2 separate regions of the Homo sapiens genome follow, and region 2 is linked to region 1. Evidence: fine-mapped expression QTL. A gene starts in region 1. The other region holds a variant in brackets. All regions are shown on one strand. Distances are from middle to middle. Region 1 holds the start of POLK (DNA polymerase kappa). Region 2 overlaps SV2C (synaptic vesicle glycoprotein 2C).

What was found.
Region 2: its variant is fine-mapped to the expression of POLK in vagina (GTEx, PIP 0.93).

Annotation. Positions count from the first base shown.
Region 1 is chr5:75,505,268-75,517,762 of GRCh38, forward strand. It overlaps POLK (DNA polymerase kappa), which reads left to right and starts at 6,624. Exons shown (of 15, transcript NM_016218.6): 1 at 6,624-6,647. CERT1 (ceramide transporter 1) reads right to left here and starts at 6,362. Exons shown (of 17, transcript NM_001379029.1): 1 at 5,845-6,362; 2 at 715-849. The coding sequence starts at 5,940. RefSeq lists enhancers at 5,719-5,788, 6,539-6,918.
Region 2 is chr5:76,295,993-76,308,487 of GRCh38, forward strand. SV2C (synaptic vesicle glycoprotein 2C) reads left to right here. Exons shown (of 13, transcript NM_014979.4): 10 at 2,802-2,935; 11 at 4,737-4,940; 12 at 5,394-5,553. SV2C-AS2 (SV2C antisense RNA 2) reads right to left here. Exons shown (of 4, transcript XR_001742750.2): 2 at 2,111-2,193. Among named protein-coding and RNA genes, the nearest start is that of SV2C-AS2, 9.4 kb to the right of the region's middle. RefSeq lists enhancers at 1-222, 202-1,084. The variant A/G (reference allele first, on the strand shown) is at 5,677.

The DNA.
Region 1 (12,495 bases):
CAGAGCAAGACTGTCTCAAAAACAAAACAAAACAAAACAAAAAAACAAAAAAAGAACAACAAAATGTAAACTAAGTAGAATGACTCAACGAAGGTGAGTTATTCTTTTAAAGGGTGTTGAATTGGAGAAAAGTGATGTAACTGCAAAATATAAGGGGAAATCATAAAAAGTTAGAAGGAGCCTATACTTAGAGTTTTTCAAAAGTTATCTTCAGGCTTTTATTCCACATTAGAGAAATCAAAACTGTAAATAGCAAATCATGTGTGAGGAACATGAGAACAGCTTCTCCCAACTCCACAAAGAGATGGCATTAGCTCAATGTTAAAAAGTTTAAAAATGAATTTACATTTATATTTTTAAGTTAAAATTTTAGAATGTTACTTACAAGATGTATTATTTTTAAATATTCAGTAACCTACAAAGTAACTGTCCCAGCCTCAACAAATAAAAAGGCTTCAAACATTTTTTTTTCCTGAAGCCCTTAAACTGGTTTGATATACCCACCAGATAAAAACTACATGTCTATGCAAAATAACAATATGTAGTAAAAACCACAGTAAAATCACTTTATGGAAAAAAGTATTAGAATGTATATTCTACAAGGACAAGGATCTTTATCTTATCCACGGATGTATCCTGAACACGTAGAACAGTTCCTGGTATGTAGCTGACACTCAATAAATATTTGTTGAATGAAGAAGAAAAGGAACTTACTGTGATGACAGCCTTGCTAAGACAGATGGATCCTCTGCAGCCATACTCTGTTTCATCTTCAGATTTGTAGTAACTCAGAGCATTATTTTTCAAAACTACCCAACGATCCTGCCACCCATGAATGTAGTTTGTCCACTGGGAGTGGGAAGGGGAAGGGAAGAGAGAAGAAAACAAAAAATAGAAGTATTTTAGAAATCCAAACTTTGTGAAACAGCAATCTAATTTTAAAACCAAAACGTGAAAAGTCCAACTTAATTCTAAGCATAAACAGTAAAATGATTACAAAAAGTGAAAAGTTGAGATTTTCTAGATTGCATAATGATTTTCAGTAATTTTTACAATATTATAAATAAATCTGTAAGAAATAAAATATAACATTTTCTTCTAACATTTGAAGAATAAAACGAAAGCCAGATTTTGGTTAAAATTATTGTTTATTCTTCGTATGCTTTCATCCTCTCCTAAGTACCTTCATGATATTTGTTTTGGTCCTTGTCATAATTAACATATTCAACAGAGAAGTATGTTCAGTTATGTATGTAGTCTCTCATTCTGACACCAAAGACTGCATGAAGCCTTCTAAATCAACGGAAGTATAAAGTCAATTATTGCTAAACTCTACTTTTGTTGTTATTCCTATATGAAAATTTATAACAGCTGTAACTATATCAAAATAAAAATAATAATCTTTAGTAAGCTGGCATCAACTTTAACTTTTCCTCTACAGAACTGAATAATATTAAAAATGGCCAATACATTTTCCAAGTTCCTCTGAACATGCATTTTTCAAACTCAAGAGTAATAAAACAAAAATAAAATTGCTTTTCAAAAACATATTGGATTGTCTTCAATACCTTAAGAGTTTCTGTGTTGCTAAAGTCTTGCTGCAAAGTGAAGATCACAATAAACTGGAAAAGGCAGAAATGTAACCTTTACAGGAATACTTATTTTTGCATGTTTTTATCTATGCTCTGGGGTGTTAAGTATAGAAAAATCTCAAAAACTATCTGCCAATTCCAAAAACTAATTAAAAATGGATTGCCAAAATATACTGCATTGGCTCAGGCTCTATATCCACTGAGAAATCTTTTATTTTTCTGTTCTCTAATTAAGCATTTTTGAGATTGATTCACTTCTTAAATTTTCTTTTATTTAGTATTTTCTTGAGACAGGGTCTCGCTCTGTCACCCAGGATGGAGTGCAGTGGCACCATCTCAGTTTACCGCAATCTCCTGGGCTCAATCCTCCCACCTCAGCCTCCCAAGTGATTGAGACTACAGGTGTGCACCCCCACATCTGGCTAATTTTTTGTAGAAATGAGGTTTCGCTATGGTGCCAAGGCTCGTCTCAAACTCCTGGGCTCAAGCGATCTGTCTTCCTTGGTCTCCCAAAGTGCTGGGACTACAGGTGAGCCACCATCCCTAGCCAGTTCTTAATTTTTCTAAGCCCCATCATTACAACCACTCTCTGAGAACTCACCCAAGCCAACATTTAACTCATTCTAGTGGCTCCCAATCACCATTTCCTTATTTCTAACTGCTTGAGATGTACCACCACTTAGACACGGGCTTGAAATAAATGATAGTTACCAATAAAACTGAATTCACCTTCCTATAAAGTATACTTCCTTCCTATTTTCCTACTTCCTTGGGGAGACTGCTACTTCTGCTCAGAGTTAGTGTATTAGATATACAAACAGATTAGTGGATATAGGATAAAATAGGCTCAACTATTTTATAACTCATGTGAAGAGAGTTTTGACAAGTTACTTTTGTAAACTTCAGTTTCTTTGCCTGTTGACTGACGGCCGAATAAAATAATGAAAATGCCTAGCATAGTCACAGAAGATACTCAATACCTAAGTGTTCCTTCTCAATATTTATAGCCCATTACCAAAAGCTGCTCATCTTTCCTTCATAGTAAACCCTTAAATTTGCCTCCTCTTCTCATTTTCAACTATTCCAATCAAATTATCCAGTTCCTGTATTCCTTAGGAGACTTAATAATTTTTTCTCTAGTATCTTCTGTTTTTTTCATAATTTACACAAGCTTATTTACTTACTAAGCATATTTGCCTACTTTTCTTACATTGATCGTATTGAGTCTCTAGCTCCAAAACTTACATGGACAACTTCCCACTGACTGTCATACAAATTGTTTAGGGCATTCAAGACCCTTCATGGATTAATCCTACCTCATTTACAATTACCACACTTCATAAGGCTAAACTTTGTGACAGTGGTCAAGTTACTTATTCTCTTTGTGTTCTTTTTTTCTTTGTCAAATTCTCTTAGAGTTAAGTTTAAACAAGAATAGACTTAGAACAGTGCCTGGACATAGTATTTTCTGAATCTGAGGAAGAGTTATACATAGCTAATGAAGCTTAACCTTCAGCATTTCTCACTAGAATAGAACTCTTTCAATGTTAGAGGAGAAGCCCCAGCAATTATGTATCCATAACTTAATATTAGTTCTTATAAGAGACTGAACAAACTGTATCAGCTTCAGGACCCTTTACTCAGTAAGTATTAGCTGTATCATGACACCTGGAAGACAAGTTTTTTGTCTTTTCTCTGCTCTCATAATGTTCCCTCACTCTTCCCCATTTAACAAATACAGATAAGGCAATATGCTAGACACTGCAGGGGAATCAAATATTACTGTGGCCAACAGGCCAGCAGACACAAACTCAAGAGAAAAAAATATATATTTAGAATAAGAGTCAGAAGCAAGCTACAAACAAAATGCTATGGGAATTCAAGTGAAGGAGGTCTTGAATGATGGCAAAATAAGAAAAGGCTTTATGGAAAGGACAGTATTTGGCTTGGACTCTTAAGGATGGACAGAATTTCAAACAGTTTGGTGTGTGGAAAAACAGAAGGTAAACCATGAAGGATGGAGGAAATTCAGAAATTGAATGAGATTATTTTATCCAGGCTTAGGTGCTCTCAAGTCCTACTAAGGCATGCATCTTTTCCCCACCATGATCCATCACGATACTTGCTATAACTAGATAGAATTATTGTCTATCTAGTATTTTTGGAATCTATACACTTAAGTGATTTATAAGAAATATGCTTCATAGGTATTTCCATGTATTTCAGATTACCATATGGAAAATACCCTTTGAACTGGTATATTTCTAATATAAATTTACCCAAGCCCATTCCAAATCCACCCCATTTTGGGGGAGAAACAAAATGAATTGTACCGGGACTTATTTACATTACTCAATGGAAGGAAAAGAACAAAATCCGAGTTCTGACCTTTGTTTAAATTACCAGGTGAATACAAAGAATTCAAACTATATAATTTACATTTAAAAACATCTACCATACTCAGTATGAGTATATATACTCAATTTAGAATACCCTTGATTAAAAAGCTTCCAGAAAACTGTATATAACCATAAATTGGTAAATCTCAGGAAAATTTCCTTCATAGCTTTGAGCAAGAATACCAAAAGCTTTATTCCTATTCATTCTACATATGCAGCAACAGTCAAAATTTAAGCTATTCACCTTCCATAGAGGTGATCAAATACATTTGTATGCATTTAAATATCGAGATTGGTCTTCCATTTTTTTATCTATAGTATACCTACTCCAGAGCACTGGTTACTTTTTCCCCCGGTCACTCCACTCCCCCAACCCCCAAAAAAGTAATTATCAGTAGGTCAAAAGTACAATTTGTTTCGTAAAATACTTAACACATCACAATACTAATATGGCAGTCAGCTTCCCATCTTATGAGCAGTGATGAAACTACCAAAATCACTGAGAAGCAAGTAACCCACTTCCTATTACCAACTGAAAATGTATACCTACTACACAATGTGTTCAATAGAGATTCCTAAATTACAGGATACATTTAATCTAAAGAAATCCTGAGGAGCTTCTCGTTACTGAAAACCTTGCACTGAAATTTCAAGAATGATCACAGCATCAATATACAACATAATTTTGCTGCTATACAAATAAAAGTCAACACTTGCAATCCTTAGTTCTGACTACTCATGCCTTTCCTGGCCCCCTTCTCATTAGCTTTCTAGACATTATAAAAGCCTAATATGAAACAATTCCACAAATAATGTCCAAGTGATTTGCCAAATATGAATACTGGAAACAGGGTGATTTCTTAATAGCCACTGGCTGCACATGACATAGTATCTTATGACCAGCTTGTTGAGGGACTGGCCCAGCTCCCCCTCTCCAAGTTAACTGCTAGCTCCAGCCATGTCTAAAAAAGTTTAACAGGAAGGGAGAGAGAAGTCAAAAAGGCTACGTGAATCTTCTTACAGCAAAAACTTAAAAAAAAAATCCCCACAACTATGTAATATCAAGAGATCATCCACCTGCAGTCCTATAATGACTGCTTTGCTAAAATTTTGATACAGGGATTTTAAAAAATATATAAAAGATAAAACATCTTTTCCTTACCCTCGACCCCTTACCGCAAAAATATTTTATTATTAAGTAATGCTCTTCCTGGACTAAAGATCAGTCTCCATTCTCACATGTTCCAAGTTACTATGAATATTTCCTGTACCCATCATGTGCCGATTCAATATCTCTATTCTGAACTAAGGTACAGGGTGAGGGAGAAAGTCCTCCACATTCATCTGTCTCACTACATCTAACCTAGCAGAATTCAACACCTCAAATTTCAACACCAAGCTGAGTCGCTCCAGCTTCTGTCGAAAGAGTTGCGTCCGCAGTGCCCCCCAACCTACTCGGCTTGGCATCCTCAGAGAGACCAACCTCTTTTAAGAGGTCCGACTTGAACCGCTCCCATGCCCAGTCGTTCGGACACCGCTGAAGCCCAACCCGGATTCCTTACACCCGGGACAGCTGCCGCCCTAAGTCCCAAGTCACGGCGCGCATCTGGCCTCCCAAACTGGATCTCAGGTTTATACACCCTTTCCCTGGTCCTCGGCTGCCCCCGACGAGCCCCCGGGCAACAAGGACAGTGCCCCTATATCCCCGCCTCATCCCTAGTCGCTGCAGCAACACTCAGCCTCGCACCCCGGCACGTTCCGCGCCTCCCGCCAGCCCCACCCCACCGCCTCAGCGGATTGCCTCGCTGCAGGTGAGTCTGGCCAGGGGTCCCTTGGCACCAGGGGTTGCTCACCTTACTGAGGACCCCGCAGCGCTCCACAGGCGGCCCAGACTCCGTCTCTGGATCCTCCTCCGAGCCCGACGAGTTCCAGCTCTGATTATCCGACATGGAGGCTCGACAACCGAGCAGGAGACCGGCCCCCGCTCCCTCAGCTGCGCCGGAGGAGGCGCCCAGTCCTCGGGGTGAAGGGTCGGGGGATGGCGAAGCGAAGAGTGCCCGCTCCGGTGTGGGGGGGAGCAGGAGGAGGGACGAAGTCCGCCCGCCGCGCCGCCGCCGCGCCTGACACCGAGCGGAGCGAGGAAGGAGGACGAGCGGTGAAGGAAGCCTACCCTTCCAGCCGTCAGCCGCCGCCGCCGTCGCCGTGACCCCTGCGTTGCGCCCGGCGCTGCCACCCGAACTTAGCCCCCTCGATGCCAATTTCAAATAGGGAAGGAAAAGGGAAAAGAAGGGAAGAGAAAATCCGGCCGCTGAGTCCCGCGTCCACTCACACCTCCGCTACCGCCGCCATCTTCCTGCCTGGCCCACTATTTACCCTCCCCTCCCCTGTCCTTTCCCCTCCCCTTCGTCCTCCCATTCTCCCCCACTACTCCCCGCCCCGTCCCCCTCCCGGCGTCTGACGCGACACGCCGAGCCTTCGGGATCCTCCTCCCGAACCCTACCTCCGGCTCTCCCGGGTGACGACGGGTAGAAAAGCAGGAGGAGCGGAGAAAGGAGAGGGCGGGGTAGGGATGCAGCTGTGCTGCATTCTGGGAAGGGCGTTGGTCCGTCGCTCGCGCAGCCTCCTGGGAGTTGTAGTCGCGATCCTGAGGTAACGGGTGAGTATCCCGCGCGGGGATCGCTTGTCCCCTTGGGGCCTTGTCAGTCGGTGGGTGGGCTTCGTTTGACAGTTGCGTGACCAGCCCCTCGGCCTCGCTTCTATCCTTGCCTTGTGTGTTTATGACGAACCCTCCGGGCTTGCGGGCCCAGACGTGAGAGAGCTTTCCGCTGAAGATGACGGGCCTGCTTTCCAGGGCGGCTTGTCGAAAGCCCGGGAGCATCTGGCCGCTTCCGCCTCAACCATGGGCTGGGGTTTTGTGAGCTACTAGTGCCAAGGGTTTTCTTTCCACCAGACCACCGCTGTAAATCTCGAGGGTCTTACTCATTAGAAGTTAGAATTCACATTTGACGTTTAAAGGAAGAATTTCCTTAGTACCTTCTCACAAGCACGCACTTCGCATTTTTAGATTTCTAGAGTTTGCTTTGTAGAAAGTAATTTTGAGGTTGTCAGAGAATAAATGACGTTAGAAAGGTTTTTAAAGTAAAACAAGAATGTGAGATGATAGCCTGGGATTTTCTCTTGGTTGTAAATGAATATCTTACTGAGAACCACGTTAACCATGCCTGCCCCTCAAAGATAGGAAAGGTTGGATATATAGAAACTTTCTCGTATTAGAAATACCGAAGTGCAGTGGTTTTGTGTGTACAAGGGATTAGGCAATAGGAGGCTATTTTTGTTTTAAGACTAGGGTTGAATTAGCAGAAAGACCAATAGAAGATCTAACAACTCTTGTCAGTTGTCAAGGATAACTTTGATTATGAGACTTTGACTTTGTAGCTTCAGTAATTTCCTCTCGTTAGCTATTTTAATATAGTCGATTTCCTTGTAATTGCCAAGAGTAAAATTTGTTATTAAACCTTAGAAAGAGTACTTTCTTACTACAAGGATGGGACGATAGGAGCGAAATTTCGAGTCTAAGGGAAAACGCTGGCCGAGTGTGGTGGCTCACGCCTGTAATCCCAGCACTTCGGGAGGCCGAGGTGGGTGGATCACCTGAGGCCGGGAGTTTGAGACCAGCCTGGGCAACAAGGTAAAACCCCGTCTCTACTAAAAATACAAAGATTAGCCGAGCATGGTGGTAGGTGCCTGTAACTCCAGCTCTTTATATCCTGGTTTCAAATCTAGGCTTGATGACCTTCTCCCATATCCCAGTATCATATTTTTTTCTTCCTGCATGGGGGATTAATTACGATTCTGAATGGTTGGTAGCATGAAGCTAGGTTATCCCTATCGTGGCAATGGATATTTAAGTAGGCATTGCCAATATTTATCTTGCTTTCTTTTACTTTCTTCTTTTTCTGACCATCCACACTCCATTTATATTGATGAGTTCTTTTACTAATATCAATTATTATTATATTATGCTCATACTGCCATGTCTTATTCTGCAGCTTTGATCCTTAAGGTGACTTTGCATATCTGTCTAGGACTCCTTTATCTGTTGATTTTTACCATTTAAGTCTCCAAAGACAGCTGTATTTTTGGAAAAGTGGGAGGGAAGAGGTAGATGGGGATACTCATTGATACCTTAATGCACTTCACAGCTGCTTGAGAATATGTCAGATCTCATAAAAAGTTCTAACATTCGAGAATAAGACAGTGATTTCAGAAATGGAATTTCAAAGGGTGTGTAGGCCACCCTTTTTATCCTGTTTCCTATTGTAGAAATGAGAGCCAGGCTAGGAATGTTTCAAGCAGAAATATTCTTACTATTCAATGAAATTGAAAATGTATTCCCATATCTTTTACTCCTATCTGTTTGGTTTATGGGATAAAAACTTGTTAGAGTAGTTGGTATTTCATAGGCTTCACTATAACATTGGAAAATCTTTTAGTCTAAAAAGCACACAGTACGGTACACCAATGAACAGTATTAGTGCCCACTCTTGGCATGTACACATGTTCTTTCTGTCGTTTTTATTTTGCTTAGCTTTTGAGTCTCTTCCTGTTACTGTGAGAAATTCTTTTATTAATATTTTAAAGGCATACTATATAAAGCAGTGTGGTGGTATATTAGGTATCAGTAGAATCCTCTTGATAGTTATTTAGTAAACGTGTTTTGCTTCCTGTTTTTTTCTAACCTTTTTATTGTTTCACTTCTACTATAATTTCACATCCTTTTCTTCTTAGTCAAATAAGTTGAAAAAATATATTTTTATAGAACATGTTGCTATGGTGATAGTTTATGAAAATATACTTTATCCCTGTTTAAGATCTTTATTAAGATCTTGCTATATGATAATCTGACTGGGGTGCTATAAAAGTAAGATATAAACCACTTCTTCTGTAGATTCATTGTTTTCTAGCATTTTTCTGTCTAGGTATTCTGACAATAATTATGTGTAGAGAGTGAATAAATATTTAAAATTGTGTGTGACATAGGAGGTTTTCAGTAAATAATAACTGATGAATGAAATAAGTTTAACTTGGTTGATGATTGAAGAGAAGTTGTGGGAACTGCAATTAACAAGGCCCAAGAAAAAAATCACTAACATGATTAAAATTGGTCAGACACCAAAGAACCAAATAACATCATAGCCTTTTGTAAGTAGCAATTATCATTTGCCAAAGGCCTACAAAATGTCAAACATTGTTTTAGGTTCATTTGATTTATTCGCTCTTCACAAAAATCCTGCAAGGTAGACATTATTCTTACTTTACATATGAGGAAATTAACATTCAAAGAAGTTAATTGCCCAGATCATCGCTAGTGAATAGTCTAGTCCAGACTTTGGACCTTAGGCGCTTGCAATACATAACTTTTAATACATATAGAATTGATTTTAGATTTTAGAAAAGTCACTCAGGCATAATGGCACATATCTGTAGTCCTAGCTGCTCAGGGTGCTGAGGTGGCAGGCTAGCTTGACCCCAGAGGTTTGAGGCTGTAGTGAGCTGTGATCATGCCAGTGCACTCCAGTGTAGGTGACAAAGTGAGACCCTGTCTCAAAAAAAAAAAAATTCCAAAAAACTATTATCCCAAATTTTTTAAATGATTAAACATTTGAGAATCTGTCAGAGCCAGATAGATTACATTCTAGGTGTGTTACATAGTTTTTCTTTAGTTTAACAGTTTTCTTAAAAGAAAATTCATCCACATGCATTTTTAAGGTGCAGTAACATATAGCCAGTTTACAGCTCTTTTCTTGCTAGTGTACACTAGCAAATATATGTTCCAATTACGCATAAATAATTTAAATGATCTCTGGAGCCTCTTGCAACTATCCCCTTGTCTTGTGTTGCTACTAAAAGGAAAAACGTATTGATTTAACCTTTGGTATTATCAGGAAAAATAGTCATTGTCATTTACTATCATTTTATTTTTTGTATTTTTGGTCATTTTATGAATAGTCCTGAGAAGCAGCAATAAAGGGATAGTGGAAAAACAACTTTATTAGAAATTATAATAAAAATAAAAACATAGCAAACCCAAATTTTTATTCCATATATTCTTGAAATAGGGAGGCCTCAAGCAATCCTCCTGCCTTGGCCTCCCAAAGTGTTGAGATTTGATGTGAGCCAACATGCCAGGCCCAATATTCTTTTTTTATGGCTAAATTCCATTGTGTATATAGACCACATCTTCTTTATCCATTCATCCATTGATGGTTGATTCCATATTTTAGCTATTGTGAATAGTGCTGTAATAAACGTGTGAGTGCAGATATCTCTTCAATGTATTGATTTCCCTTTTGGATATATACGTAGTAGTAGAATTGCTAGATCATACAGTAGTTGTATTTTAAGTTTTCTGAGGAACCTCCATACTGTATTCCATAGTGACTGTACTAATTTACATTCCCACCAACAGTGTAGCAGGGTTCCCCTTTCTCCACATCCTTGCCACCATCCATTATTCTCTATCTTTTTAATAAAAGCCATTTTAGGCCGCCCATGGTGACTGAGGTGAGAGGATCACTTGAGCTGCTCAGGAGTTTAAAACTAGCGTGGGCAACGTAGTGAGACCTCGTCTCTAGTATAATAAAAAAAATTTTTTTTAAGCCATTTTGACTGGGGTAAGATGATAGCTCATTGTGGTTTTGATTTGCATTTCTATGATGATTAGTGATGTTGAACATTTTTTTAATTTACCTGTTGGCCATTAGTATGCCTTATTTTGAGAAATGTCTATTCTTTTGCCCATTTTTAAATAAGATTATTTTTCTTTTATTGAGTTGTTTGAGCTCCTTATATATTCTGGTTACTAATCCCTTGTCAGATGGATAGTTTGCAGACATTTTCTCCTGTTCTGTGGGTTGTCCCTTCACTTTGTTGATTGTTCACTCAGCTGTGAAGAAGCTTTTTAGCTTGATATAATCTAATTTGTCTACGTTTGCTTTGGTTGTCAGTGCTTTTGTGGTCTTACACAGAAAAGTTTTTGGCCAGGCCAAGAGTTGTGCCTCATGCCTATAATCCCAGCACTTTGGGAGGCTGAGGCAGAGGATTGCTTGACCCCAGGAGTTTCAGACCAGTCTGGGCAACATAGGGAGACCCTACTTTTGCAAAAAGAATTTTAAAAGTTTAAAAATTAAAATAAAATTAAAGAAAAAAGTTTAAAACATTAAAAGTTTAAAAATAAAGTTAAATGAATAAATAAAATTAGCTGGATGTGGTAGCACACACCTGTGATCCCAGCTACTCAGGAGCCTGAGGTGGGAGGATTGCTTGAGCTCAGGAGGTCAAGGGTATAGAAAGCTGTGATTACACCACTGCATTCAAAGCCAGGTAACAGAGTGAGACCCTGTCTCCAAAAACAAAAAAACAAAATAAAACAACTTTTGGCCAGGCCAATGTCCTGGAGTATTTCCCAAATACATTTTTCTAGTAGTTTCATAATTTCAGATCTTACATTTAAGTTTCTAATCCATTTTGATTTGATTTTTGTATCAAAAATCAAAGAGATAAGGAAGAAATATCTGAGAGATAGTCTTATTCTTCTGCATGTGGTTATCCAGTTTTCCCAGCACCATTTATTGAAGAGACTATCCTTTTACCATGATGTGTTCTTGATTGCTTTGTCAAAAATTACTTGGTTGTAAATGTGTGGATTTATATCTGGGTTCTCTATTCTGTTCCATTTGTCCATGTGTCTATTTTCTTGCCAGTATTATGGTCATTTGGTTACTATAGCTTTGTAGTATATTTTGAAGTCAGATAGTGTGATGCCCCAAGCTTTGTTCTTTTCCCCTAGGACTGCTTTGGCTATTCAGAGTCTTTTTGTGGTTCTATATACGTTTTAGGATTCTTTTTCTATTTCTGTGAAGAATGTCACTGGTATTTTGATAGAGATTGCATTGAATCTGAAAATTGTTTTGGGTAGTATTGTCGTTTTAACAATATTCTTCTAATTCCACAAGCTTAGAATATCTTTCCTTTTATTTGTGTCTTCAATTTTCTTCATCAGTGTTTTATAGTTTTCTTTTACAGATCTTTCACTTAAGATAATTGCTTCGTATTTTATATTATTTGTAACTATTGTAAATGTTATGCTCTAACAGCAAACAACATGAAAAATAAATCAAGAAAGCAATCTAAATAAAAAAAAGTCTGTACTGACTTTTGTATGTTAATTTTGTATCCTGACACTTTACTGAATTTGTTTATCAGTTCTTAACAGCTTTTGGTGGAGTCTTTAGGGGTTTTGTAAATATAAGATTATGTTGCCTACAAAGATAACTTGACTCCTTCCTTTGCAATTTAGATGCCCTTTATTTCTTTCTCTTGTCTGATTGCTGTGACCAGGGCTTTCAGTATTATATTAGATAACAGTGGTGAAGGTGGGCATCCTTGTCTTGTTCCAGATCTTAGAGGAAAGGCTTTCAATATTTCACCATTCAGTGTGATGT
Region 2 (12,495 bases), 790 kb after region 1:
TTCTTCTTAGCTTTCCCTGCACTGAAACAGGCATAGTTTTTTGTTTGTTTGTTTTAGTTTGTACATTTAGTCATTTTCATGATGAATTTCAATACTTCTTAATAGGCTTTAAATAAAAGGTACAAATGTATCCATTACTTCACTTAAAACTATTTTTGCAGCTAAGTTGCTTCATATTTATTAGGTAGTGGACTTGACTGGTGTGGAAGGAAAATTTAGAGCAATGTTGGAGAGCAACAAAAATAATGGAAGGAAGAGAAGAGTGAAGAGTATGGGAAAATAAGACAGGCTATAGGATTATTTAATTCACAGAAGAAATCTGAAATGTGATTATATGAGTCTTCTATTCCTGAGAAACAGAGCCACTTTTCAGAATTCATCCTTCCCAATACGCTGAATCCAGAATTGAGGTTAAATTGCATCAGGAAGAGTTTCAATTAGAGAACAGGAATCATTCCCCAAAGTAAAGGGCTTTGAAAGACGGAAGGGTCTCCTTTATGGGATCTGAAATACTTCTTGATGACAAGAGAGAACTGACTCAGGGAGGTGGTCCTGGGTCATTCTTTTAGAGATGGAAAAGAGTAGACCAAGTACTTGTTTATATCCAAGTATTTTTGTTGCCTGAACAAATAATTGCCAGTGTAAGTTCATGATAGTTTACATCATTCTTAGGAAGTTGTCCCAATTTCAAAAGTGATAAAATAAAACTCTAAAATAATCAAAGTTCCCCAGGGCAAAAACCAGTTCAGAAAGATGAAAAAGAATTCAGTGGGATGCTTATGATCTATGTAATGGAAAAGAGGGTTACTAACTAGGAGGTAATTGTTCAAATTAGCAATTCAATGAAGGAACTAATCATCATCCAAGCCAAGTGGGATCACCTTCACTCTCCCACATAAAATACTGACTTGAATCTGCACTTAGCATTTCACAGAAAGCTTAGTGTCAAGTCCTCTGTGATGCCAGGGTGAAAACTGACTTTCAAAAGTATTGTTACTCCATTAGAAATTTCTAATATATGTTTGTGTCTCTGACAGTCATATTTTTAGTAATATATGTTAAAGTTCTAAACTGGATACTCAGTCACTGCTTAGAACTTTTTTACATTAGCAATATAATGATTACTAATTTTAATAGTATTACAGTTTTTGTAAAACATATGTTACACATTTATTTTAAAAGATGATAGAAACAATTTTTTTGTCCTTCAGGAAAATTTGAAATACCATTAACGAAATTTTTTAAAAAATAGCTTTTTTATTCAGCATCATAAAATGGCAACTCTTTATATACTGATACGGAATAACCTCCAAGGTAGACTAGAAGGAGATAAAGCAGGTGTACTTTAGACACAGAATGCTCCTGGAGGAGCACACAAGAAACTGACAACAATGGTTATTCTGGGCAGAGGAACTTGTGGCCTGGGGATGGATGGGAAAAGACTGACTTTTTCCATTTTCAACCTTTCGAATTGTGCACCATGTGTACTCTCTGAATTATCCATTCAAAAAATAAAACTGATTCATTCCCTTTTCCAAATTCAGTTCCATGACAGAAAAAATTGATAACTTTTTAAAGATGTGCCATTATTTAGTCTCTTTTGGTGCATTTAGATGTTTTTACTCTGGGTCCCTGGAGTGGGGATTGAAACGAGATCATTATTATTATTTCCAGGTAATGTACCATGGGAATGATTTCTTTTTTAAGCTGATTGGTCTGTGAGGCCATGTGCATTTTGAACCAACACACGTAATTGGGTATTAGGGAGAGAATAAATTTGAAAGTACTCAATAGTTAGTAAACTGCTTTTAAATCAACCTACTTACCTAGAAGGATCAGTCCCTTTCTGCCCCTAATAAGAGTGGTATTGACATAACAACTCCTTCCCGAGGAGAACAAGCATTTTCCTCTCAGTGACTGGCTAAGTGTACATTCATAGTCTCTTAATAAAGTACCAGGACACGTTAATGAATATTTATCTGTGTCTGCTGGGAGTCCTTATCAATGCTGATAAGGCCTGGATCATGGACTCTTCTAAGATGTTATTATCATTATGACTGTTACCATTTTTACCACGTAGAATTCCCCCTTATAATACCCAAAAATATACCTGAACAGGTTTCATCATTCTTCATGTTTCCAAAAATAAGCAGAGTTCTCATAATTCCTTTTGGTTCAAGGACTATCTGTTGGCTGTGAGAAGAAAAATTATCCTGGAAATGAGCGTCACCTATGAGTTTCTTCAACCCCAAGTCAGTTATTCCTCACATAAATGAAACAGAATTCTCATGCTCTCTCTTCAGGATAATTACAGGTCCCTACACTAGAATGAAGAAGACTTGGATTTTCAGCTAGGGAAAAATAAAGTTATTAAAAGATCGGGTAGGAGGACATCCTTAAGTTAGAGCCATTAACCCCAAATAGAGAATATTCAAATAAAGATATACATGAAGAGACGATAGGATTAAAACCTAAAGAATAGCCCCAGGTAATCCCCAAACTATCTTCAGTTGCATACCCCACAAAACTTTTTACCAACATTACAAAAAGCTAAGGGAAGTTAGGAGTGTCATCTCTTTTCCTGGTGAAAAATAATATTGGTAAGCAATAAGATAGCCAAAGGTCAGCCTGGATGAGAAAAAGGGGAAAAAGCAGAGAGCTAAGAAAATCAAGAACTCTGTGTTCTTTATAATTAAGACAGTCCATAGTGGGGCATTCCATCTCTAAAACTATTTGACTTAGCTTTGAACTTTGATGGACACAGTCATTGATTGATATGAATTTTTCTGTGTGTTGGGCAGATTCATAGGGGTCAAGTTCAAATCTGTAACTTTCAAAGACTCTGTTTTTAAGTCCTGCACCTTTGAGGATGTAACTTCAGTGAACACCTACTTCAAGAACTGCACATTTATTGACACTGTTTTTGACAACACAGGTAGGTGTGCTACTTAGTACTGCCTCTACCTGAGGCCTCTCCAAAGGGCCCACTGTGATAACCATGTGATAATGTGGGCAGAGGCTTATGCGGGAAGTGGATATTAAAGAATAAATGGAACAAGTTCTCTAAATCAGGTTGGATCAAAGGTTGGCTTGTATTGTTTGTCTTTGTCAGATTTAGTGCAAATGGAGCTTGCCAAAGTTCAAAAGTTGGCAACAACAACAACAAAAAAATCCTTTGATGAATAAATTTTTAAAGCAAAGACCTAACCTGTAGTTTATTTGTTTTGATAATCCTGGGTTCAAAATCTGGTGTTTGTTTAAATGCCTCAACTCTATAGCCAACAGAGATAGACAACATGTGGCTATGCTCAGATACATATATATTTTGGCCAAATCCATATAATGGGGTATTTTAAACTCCCCAGGGGGAAAAAAAAGGAAGGCAAACAAGCATTGATTGAACACCTATATACTGTTTTCTACTCTAGGTCATTAGACATTCATTATCTCATTTAGTTTTCACAGTAGCTGAGGCTTAGGAAAGTTAAGTAATTTGTCCACAATTATAGAACTAGTAATAACAGATGTTTGAACCCAGATTTATTTGATTTCAAAGCCTGTGCCTTCCACTTTCCCACTCCCAAACATTGGTCTGTGTGTCCTATAAAATGAATCCAGCATAACAGCGTGGCATTGGCAGGAGCATCAGCATTTGCCCTGTTGCCAGACCTGCCTTCTTAGTGCTCAGACAAGGGCTCTGCCTAGCTCCAAAGAAGAATGAGGTCAGGTGTCTTTCTGTTTTTTGTTTTTTGAGCAATGCTATCTACCTGTCTTCTAACCCATTAAACCTCAGAAGACGAACATTTTGTCAGATCTTGATCAGCAAGGAAGATAGTTTCAATTCTCACAGCCTTTTAGCAGAAACCACCACCATCTGCAACTCTTCTTGGATGGTTTCAAATTCAAGAAAAGATTAGCAATGAATGCTGGTGACCTTCAGATGAGGCTGACTCTTGTTCCTCAGTAGATTCATGCACATAGACTTTAAATTATAAATTCAGCCTCAGGAAAGACTTGTTCCTTCTCTGTGCCCTCTAGTCTCATAAAATGGCAATGATAAGGCTGACTCTTGCACTTTTTTTTCCTTAGAGACAGGGTCTTGCTCTGTCATCCAGGCTGGAGTACAGTGGCGCAATCACAGCTCACTGCGGCCTCAAATAAAAAATTATTATTATTATTATTATTATTATTATTATTATTTTTGTAGAGATGGTGTCTCACTATGTTGTCCAAGCTAGTCTTGAACTCCTGGCTCAAGCAATCCTCCTGCCTCATCCTCCCAAAGCACTGGGATTACAGGCATGAGGCACCACACCCAGCCCATGCACATTTTGAAACAAATTGTTTTTATAATTGTAGTATGGACACTATTAGTACTATAATGATAGTCTTTATGTAACATGATAATTAGGACATAGTAATATTGTAAAGGAGTAAGCAAGTAATATAATTAGCAATGGCCGACCATAGGAAATCAGAAGATAACTGGACCCCTTAATTTAATGTATTCCTTTATTCAGCAAAGGTATCTCATCATTCACCTACTTTATGATGTGAAGACCCAGACTAGATCCTATGCTTTGGCCAGAAGACCCAAAAAGTCAAGCTAGCATAGGCCTGAAAGCCCTCAAGGAATTTACAATACTGGTTTCCTCTCCGAATCCTCCATAGGCTTTCTTATACTGGTGCATGCCTGGTAAGAGCTTGATGAATTGTCTTTGTTGTTGTTTCTACAGATTTTGAGCCATATAAATTCATTGACAGTGAATTTAAAAACTGCTCGTTTTTTCACAACAAGACGGGATGTCAGATTACCTTTGATGATGACTATAGTGCCTACTGGATTTATTTTGTCAACTTTCTGGGGACATTGGCAGTATTGCCAGGGAACATTGTGTCTGCTCTGCTGATGGACAGAATTGGGCGCTTAACAATGCTAGGTATGTACTCAGTTTCATGTCAAATAAAAGAGCTGCCCCTGCAATCCAGAGGGACCCTGTTTCCCCCTGTACTCCCATCTATTAGGGATTTGCATCCAATAAGGAGAAATCCTTTAGACCTTACGTTGGGACTAAATTATAGTGAAAATTATGTCTAATTACATTTCATTTGAGTGGTTTCCATGAGTTAACAGACTGAAAAACTATGTGTAAAATGTATATTTTCCCACTCAAGTAGCTGAGTAAAAGATGATATGCATTTCATACTTTCTGTGTTCAGAGGCAGTTAGAGCCTTTCATTCAGGTGAATGCACCAGTTCTTGAGCTTTATGGAGCCCATCCTGCAGCTTCCACTTAGAATTCAGTTTTCTTGAGCAATCCCAAGGACCCAAGGGTTCTTGCTTTACTAAGATGACAGGAAACATTCCAGCCTTTTGTCTGCATTGTTGGCAGGTGGCTCTATGGTGCTTTCGGGGATCAGCTGTTTCTTCCTTTGGTTCGGCACCAGTGAATCCATGATGATAGGCATGCTGTGTCTGTACAATGGATTGACCATCTCAGCCTGGAACTCTCTTGACGTGGTCACTGTGGAACTGTACCCCACAGACCGGAGGTATGTTGAAATGGGCCTCTAGTAAGAGGCACTCTAAGCCCTGTGAGACCACTGAAAAATTATTTTAAAACAACCCAAACTGGCTGGGCACGGTAGCTTATGCCTGTAATCCCAGTACTTTGG[A/G]AGGCCAAGGTGGGTGGATCACCTGTGGTCAGGAGTTCGAGACCAGCCTGGCCAATATGGTGAAACCTCGTCTCTACTTAAAATACAAAAATTAGCCGGGTGTGGTGCCAGGTGCCTGTAATCCCAGTTACTCAGGAGGCTGAGGCAGGAGAATCACTTGAACCCAGGAGGCAGAGGTTGTGGTGAGCCAAGATCACACCACTGCACTCCAGCCTGGGCAACAGAGTGAGACACCATCTCAAAAAAAAAAAAAAAAAAAAAAGCCAAACTGTCACTTCCCCAGGAAAGTAAAAATCCAAAAATATCTGGCTTCACAAAGTTGTAGGTTCCACTCATATCTTTTAAAAAGAAAATATAGGGGAACATATGTGCTAGAAGGAATTAATAGGGCAATGAAGCCAGTGAAGGAATTTAAGTGTGTCCTTAACTTAGTTTGTAGGCTAACAATATGAGGAAGCTGTAATGAAGCAGTGAGGATTAGAGTTTAATAGCCTATCTTAGCCCACATTTTAAGTGGCTAACCAGTCCTTAGAGGGTCGTTTCCTTAGGTTTGCAGATGTGTCTGCATGAGCTCTGCATTAAGCAACCACAAAGAGGTATCTAGAACATATCTCTTGACCTTCCTGGTTTGTTGGAGGAAAGCCAAACACATTTCTAGTTATAAAAAACAATTGTGCTGGGCCTAGTGGGACATGCCTGTAATCCCAGCAATTTGGGAGGCCGAGGCGGGCAGATCACCTGAGGTCAGGAGTTTGAGACCAGCCTGGCCAACATGGTGAAACCCCGTCTCTACTAAAAATACAAAAAAAAACCTAGCCAGGCATGGCGGCGGGTGCCTGTAATCCCAGCTACTCAGGAGGCTAAGGCACGAGAATGGCTTGAACCTGGGAGGCGGAGGTTGCAGTTAGCCAAGATCATGCCACTGCACTCCAGTCTGGACAACAAGAGTGAGACTCCATCTCAAAAAAAAAAAAAAAAAAAAAAAATTGCTCCCAATATGGAAACACAGAGACTCATATCAGAGAAAGGGCTAGGGCTTTTGGGTATAGCTTCAGCAGCTTGAATAGCTAAATTAAAATAAAAGAAGCTCTGCTTTACCATTTGATATGAGCTAAGACAAATGGACTTTGCCTTCATGTACCACTCCTGTGCTATGTTGCCATAGAAGTCCTCTGTGCCAGAGGGTGGAGTCAGTATTATCTGGACTTTGAAATGTAGGAGAGTTTTTTCCTAGAACTATGCCAAAACATTTGGGATATCAATTTGCAACTGATCTTGAGTGCTTCCTCTGGGCTCATTCCCTTTTTTTATTGACCCCAAAGAGGTGTATTCTGTGTGTGTCCTGTCCTGTCTCTAACTTATATTTCTTCTTCAACAACATCTATTACTGAGCTTGCAGAACCCTGTAGGTACCCCTCCATCCATCTCCCTGCAGAACATCTAACACTCAACCCTGGATGTCTGCTTATCAAATATTCTAGTTCAGACCCTCAGTGACCCACCTATTAAATATTTAGGCTCTGAAAGGAACCATACAATCTTTGTACGGCATCTCCTTCATTCATTCAACAAATGTTAATTCTCTGTCTTTGTGAACGAGGTCCTGCCAGAGTTGGTGCGGCCAAAAGCAAGATTAAGACTCTGCAGCTTCATTGAGCTTTCTTTCATCAACCTCTCATTCTGCAAACAGAGCTTAGATGTGGATTACACTATACGTTTAAAATGAACCCCTCAATTGCTTGAGCCCATTGTGCCACTGCACTCCAGCCTGAGCAGCAGAGAGAACCTGTCTCAAAAAATAAATAATAAAATAAAATAACCTCCTCAATGTTAAAGCAAGGCTAGGTCATAGCCTCCTTCCTTTTTCTTGTATACTATAAGAGTGTGATACTGTTTTAGGAGAATCAGCTGCTTATCCCTCTGCCATAAGGAATAGAAGGATGAGTATTCACCTAGGACAAAAATCTGGCTTAAAAAAAAAAGACCCTCATAAATTGAAATTGGTCAGGTCCTTCCTGTGAGAAGTACAGACCTACGGTGTTTCTGTTGTCAGAAAGGTTAAATATCAATTGAAATAAAAACAAATGTTGCTTATTTGTATTAATTCAGGTCCTCCATGAAGCAGATGTCAGGATGGGATTAAACATGCAAAAATGTTATTAGAGGAAATGACTGTGAGAGAAGATGGAGAGGGAGTGAAGTATGGGAGAGCTGCAATGCAACTCTAAGCCTGAGCGAAGGAGGGAGGAAGGAGTATTTGGGTGGAATCTCCCAGACTATCCAGTAATCTAAGGAAGGTTTGGCAAGGCTGTTGGAGACCCAGGGATCATGACAACATCAGCCTCAGAGGAGTCCTGTGTGACTCAGGAAGCAGCCTGCAGTAATAGTCCTGTCAGGTCCAGTCATTGTCTGGGAGCAGCATGTGGGAAAACACCTCTGTGCACACCAGCACGATAACACAAAGGTCTGCCAGGTGCATTCTCACCGCGGTCACGCTGTTGCTGGCAGACGCTCTCCAGCACTTAAGTAGATGTCATCAGATAATCACAGGAAGTCATTTCCTTTGGTGATCTAGAAGATGACTTGTGCTCCAGAGCAGCGTGACCATGGCCATGGTAAATTCGCTAGTATGAGCTAATTAGTGAGTATCTGAAAATATTTCAGGCTAAAACCTCTTCCACCATTTCCATGTTTCTCTGGGTTGCATTAGGAGGTCTCCACTGATCTCTAACTCAGCTATTAGAGGAAAATCCCAACCAGTTGAGACACTCTATAGCTTCATCTCCCCATGGAGGCAGGATAGAATACAAGAATACAGGAATAGAACACAAAAATTCTGGCTAGAGGCTTTACTTCATTCTCTTGTGTTGCTCTAACAAAGTACCTGAGACTAAGTAATTTATAAAGAAGAGAAATTCATTTTCTCACAGTTCTGGAGGCTGGCAAGTTCAAGATCAAGGCAGGTTTGGTGTCTTGGGTGAGAGCTACTGTCTGCTTCCAGATGTTGCTGAGTCCTTCAGAGGAGACGAACACTGTGTCCTCACATGGTGGAAGGCAGAAGGGCAGGAAGGGCCAAACACTGTGTGAAGCCTCTTTTATGAGGGCCTTAATCCCATTCACCAGGGAGAAGCCCTCATGACCTAATCATCTCCTAAAGGCCCCCCTCTCTTAATACTGGGATTTGTATTGGTTTGTTCTTGCATTCCTATAAAGAAATACCTGAGACTGGGTAATTTATAAGAAAAGAGGTTTAATTGGCTCATGGTTCTGCAGACTATACAGGAAGCATAGGAAGCATAGTGGCATCTGCTTCTGGGGAGGCCTCAGGAAGCTTCCAATCATGGCAGAAGGTAAAGGGGGAGCAGGCACATCACATGTAAAGAGCAGGAGCAAGAGAGCTCAAGGGGAGGTGCCACACACTTTCAAACAACCATAGCTCACAGGAACTCACTCACCATTGCGAGGACAGTACCAAGGGCACAGTGCTAAACCATTCATGAGAAATCTGCCCCCATAATTCAATCATCTCCCACCAGGCCCCATCTCTGACACTGGGGATTACATTCTAACATGAGATTTGGGTGGGGCACACATCCAATCTCTATTAGGATTACATTTGCATTTACTGTGAAAACACTAATGAGGACGTTGTTCATTATAGGACACATCTTCTTCTACTCAGAGTCTACCATGAAGACTGAACATCTCAGGGGTGGGTTCTAGGAATCATTTTGTATTCCTCCACCCATGCTTTGAGAAGCTGTTATGTGTCCTCACTTCATATGATAAAAATTGTGTAATTCTTCACATTTCCTTCTCTGTTGTGCAATCAGGAAGCAGAGAGCCTGTGTCTCTGCTAAATCTGCATAGTCCAGATACTTGTTTCACTCTTCCTTATCTTGATTTGCCCCCTCTTATGCCCATTTTATTAATTTTGTGTCTTTTATAAGTTATCCTACCTAGATCGTTTGATAAAGAGGCAGGAAATTTTGGAATTAAATCTAGATGTACTTACTGAATAGCACTTTTCTGTGCCAAAAAAAATGAAACAACCATTTTTCCATTCTGTAAATGCCATCAACATCCTCCTTTCTTCAAAACCTCAGTATCAAAAATGAGCATAACAATTGCAGTCTTAAACAGATGCATGGTGACATTCTAGCTTTTTCCCCAGATTAGAGAGCACTTACACACTGACTGGGACATGATGATTTAAGGGACACAAAAAGAGGTGGGAGGGGACTGAACATTCCAACCCTCTGGACATATGGTTGGTTTTTCTGGAGACCAGCCCAATCCAGAAGCTATCTAGGATCCCCTCAGCCAAGAGTCATCTCATTAGCCTACAAAAGACACTCTTTTGGTGGAGCAGGGGGAAGGATGGGGTCTCCCTCTGTTGCCCAGAGCTACAATCTGTAACCAGAGCTGGAATGCAGTGATTCAATCATAGCTCACTACAGCCTCAAACTCCTGCGCTCAAGTGATCCTCCCCCATCAGCTTACAAAGTAGCTGGAACTACAGATGTGTATCACCATGCCAGGCTAATTTATTTTATTTTTTTTTATTTTAAGAGATGGGGTCTCACTGTGTTGCCCAGGCTGGTCTCAAACTCCTGGCCTCAAGCAATTCTTCTGCCCCAGCCTCTGAAGTAGCTGGTATTATAGGTATGACCCATTGTGCCAGGCTCCAAAAGATACTCTTATCCAAGGGTTTTAGGAGCTCAATGCCGGGAACTGGGGATGAAGACCAAATACTTATTCTTTACTTATACCTTATATTTAAGGCTGGAGATTATTACTAAAGTGCAATTTATTATCCAGAGGATTTAGCTATGCAAAAGGTGGGAAACTGTACCCCTGGACAGCAAATCAAAAACAAATCTACATTCCCTAAAACCTTAGCTGCTAGTTATAAGCATGACCTCAAAACCAGAAACCATCAGGGAGAAGGTTAAAAGAATTCTCTGGGTAAAACAAAATGTGAATTCCACACAGCAAAAAATACCATAGGCACATATAAATGATAAATTGAGGGCAGGAGGGGGTTGAAACAGAAATGAATTAATAACCTGAATATATAAATTGGAAATTCATAAAGAAATGTCAACAAACACTTAGCATATAAAAATGCTCAGCTTCACTAATAGTAAAAATTAATTACAAATTAAAGCAATTATGACATTTAGCTTTCTCCTATTATTCAGAGAAGACAATATTTAAAAGATAGATAAGATCCAGTGTTCTCTGGGGCAAGTGAGGGGTTACTGCTGAGTCTGTTGTGGGAATTCTGAAAACAGATACCACATTTGTAGAGGGGGATGATCTACAGTCTTAAGTATTTTTTCCCAATAGGAATAAACTATTGATTCCTCTGGTTGCTTTTCAGGTTTTTTCTTTGCCTGCCATGGATTTCTTTGGGTTTACTATGTTTGGGGTTTGCTCAGCTTCTTGAATCTGTAGGTTTACAGCTTTTGCCAAATTTATGAGGTTTTCAGCCATTATTTATTTTGTCAAAAAACAAAATTACAACAAATTTAGTGTAAAGAGCTAGTTGACTTTTATCTGCTATTCTAGAAGCAGGCAACACCTCACTCTATAAAATGGGGTGAGTGCTCTAATGAGCTGAGCAGAGAAAGTTGGCTTCATAGGCAGAAAAGCTCTAAAGAGAGCAGATACAGAGAACAAAAAGCAGATAGCCCTTTCAAAGTCCCTTTCTGTAAAGGGCTAAAACAGAGGGGACTTCCTTATTATGCTCATTTGGGTTGGCCGGAATCACCTGTTTTTTGGAAAACTGGCTCTTTTCAAAGTTCAATTTGATTAGGTGGCACTTAGCCTGAGTGACTCCATTCTGCTTAGGACTGGTCTGCTGTGGCCTAGGTGCAGGAGACTAGCCCAAAACAATGGCCTCCCGTAAAATTTAACTATTTGAATACTTTTTCAGTGCTGCCCTTTTTCTCTTCTGCCTGAACTCCAGCAACATAAATATTAGATCTTTTGTTATAGTTCCGCAGGTCCCTGATTTAGTTTGTTTTCTCTGTTCTTCACTTTAGATAGTTTCCATTGTTCTGTCTTCCAGTTCACTGGTTCTTTCCTCTGTCTCCTCCATTCTGCTGTTGAGCCCAACCACTAAGCTTTTTATTTTGGTTATCATATTTTTCAGTTCTAAAATTTTCATTTAGTTCTTCTTTATTTCTTCTACTTCTTTGCTAGGGCTTTCTATTTTTTCCATTTTTGCCGTGATGCTTTCTAAATTTCATGTGTTTCAAGTGTGTTCATAGTTGCTCATTGAAGCCTTATTATGGCTGCTTTAAAATATTCATCAGATAATTCTAACATCTCTGTCATATCAGTGTTGCCATCTATTGATTGTCTTTTTTCATTCTGTTTGAAATCTTCCTGTTTATTTGTATGACAAACAGTTTCTGATTGGAAGCAGTCATTTACATATTATGTTATGAGAATTTGGATCTTATTTAAGCCTTTTGCTTGAATTGGCTTTCTGTGACTCCTCTCTGGCAAGCGAAAGGGAGGCATTGCCTTATTATTACCAGGTGGACGTAGAAGTCCAGGTACTCCACTTAAGCTCCAGTGACACCCAAGAGTGGGCATTCTCATTACTGCTGGGAGTCCACACTCCCTTCCTGATCATGGATACCATGGGAGGGAGGGAAGGAGGAGCTCATTACCACCCAGCAGGGATGAAAGTCCCAGCTCCTTACTTACCCTTCTCTGATGGCATCCCAATGGTAGTGTTGACAGGTCTTCTTAGTTTCACAAGGGTGGAAGTCTAGGCTACCACCAGACCTTTGCTGATGTAGC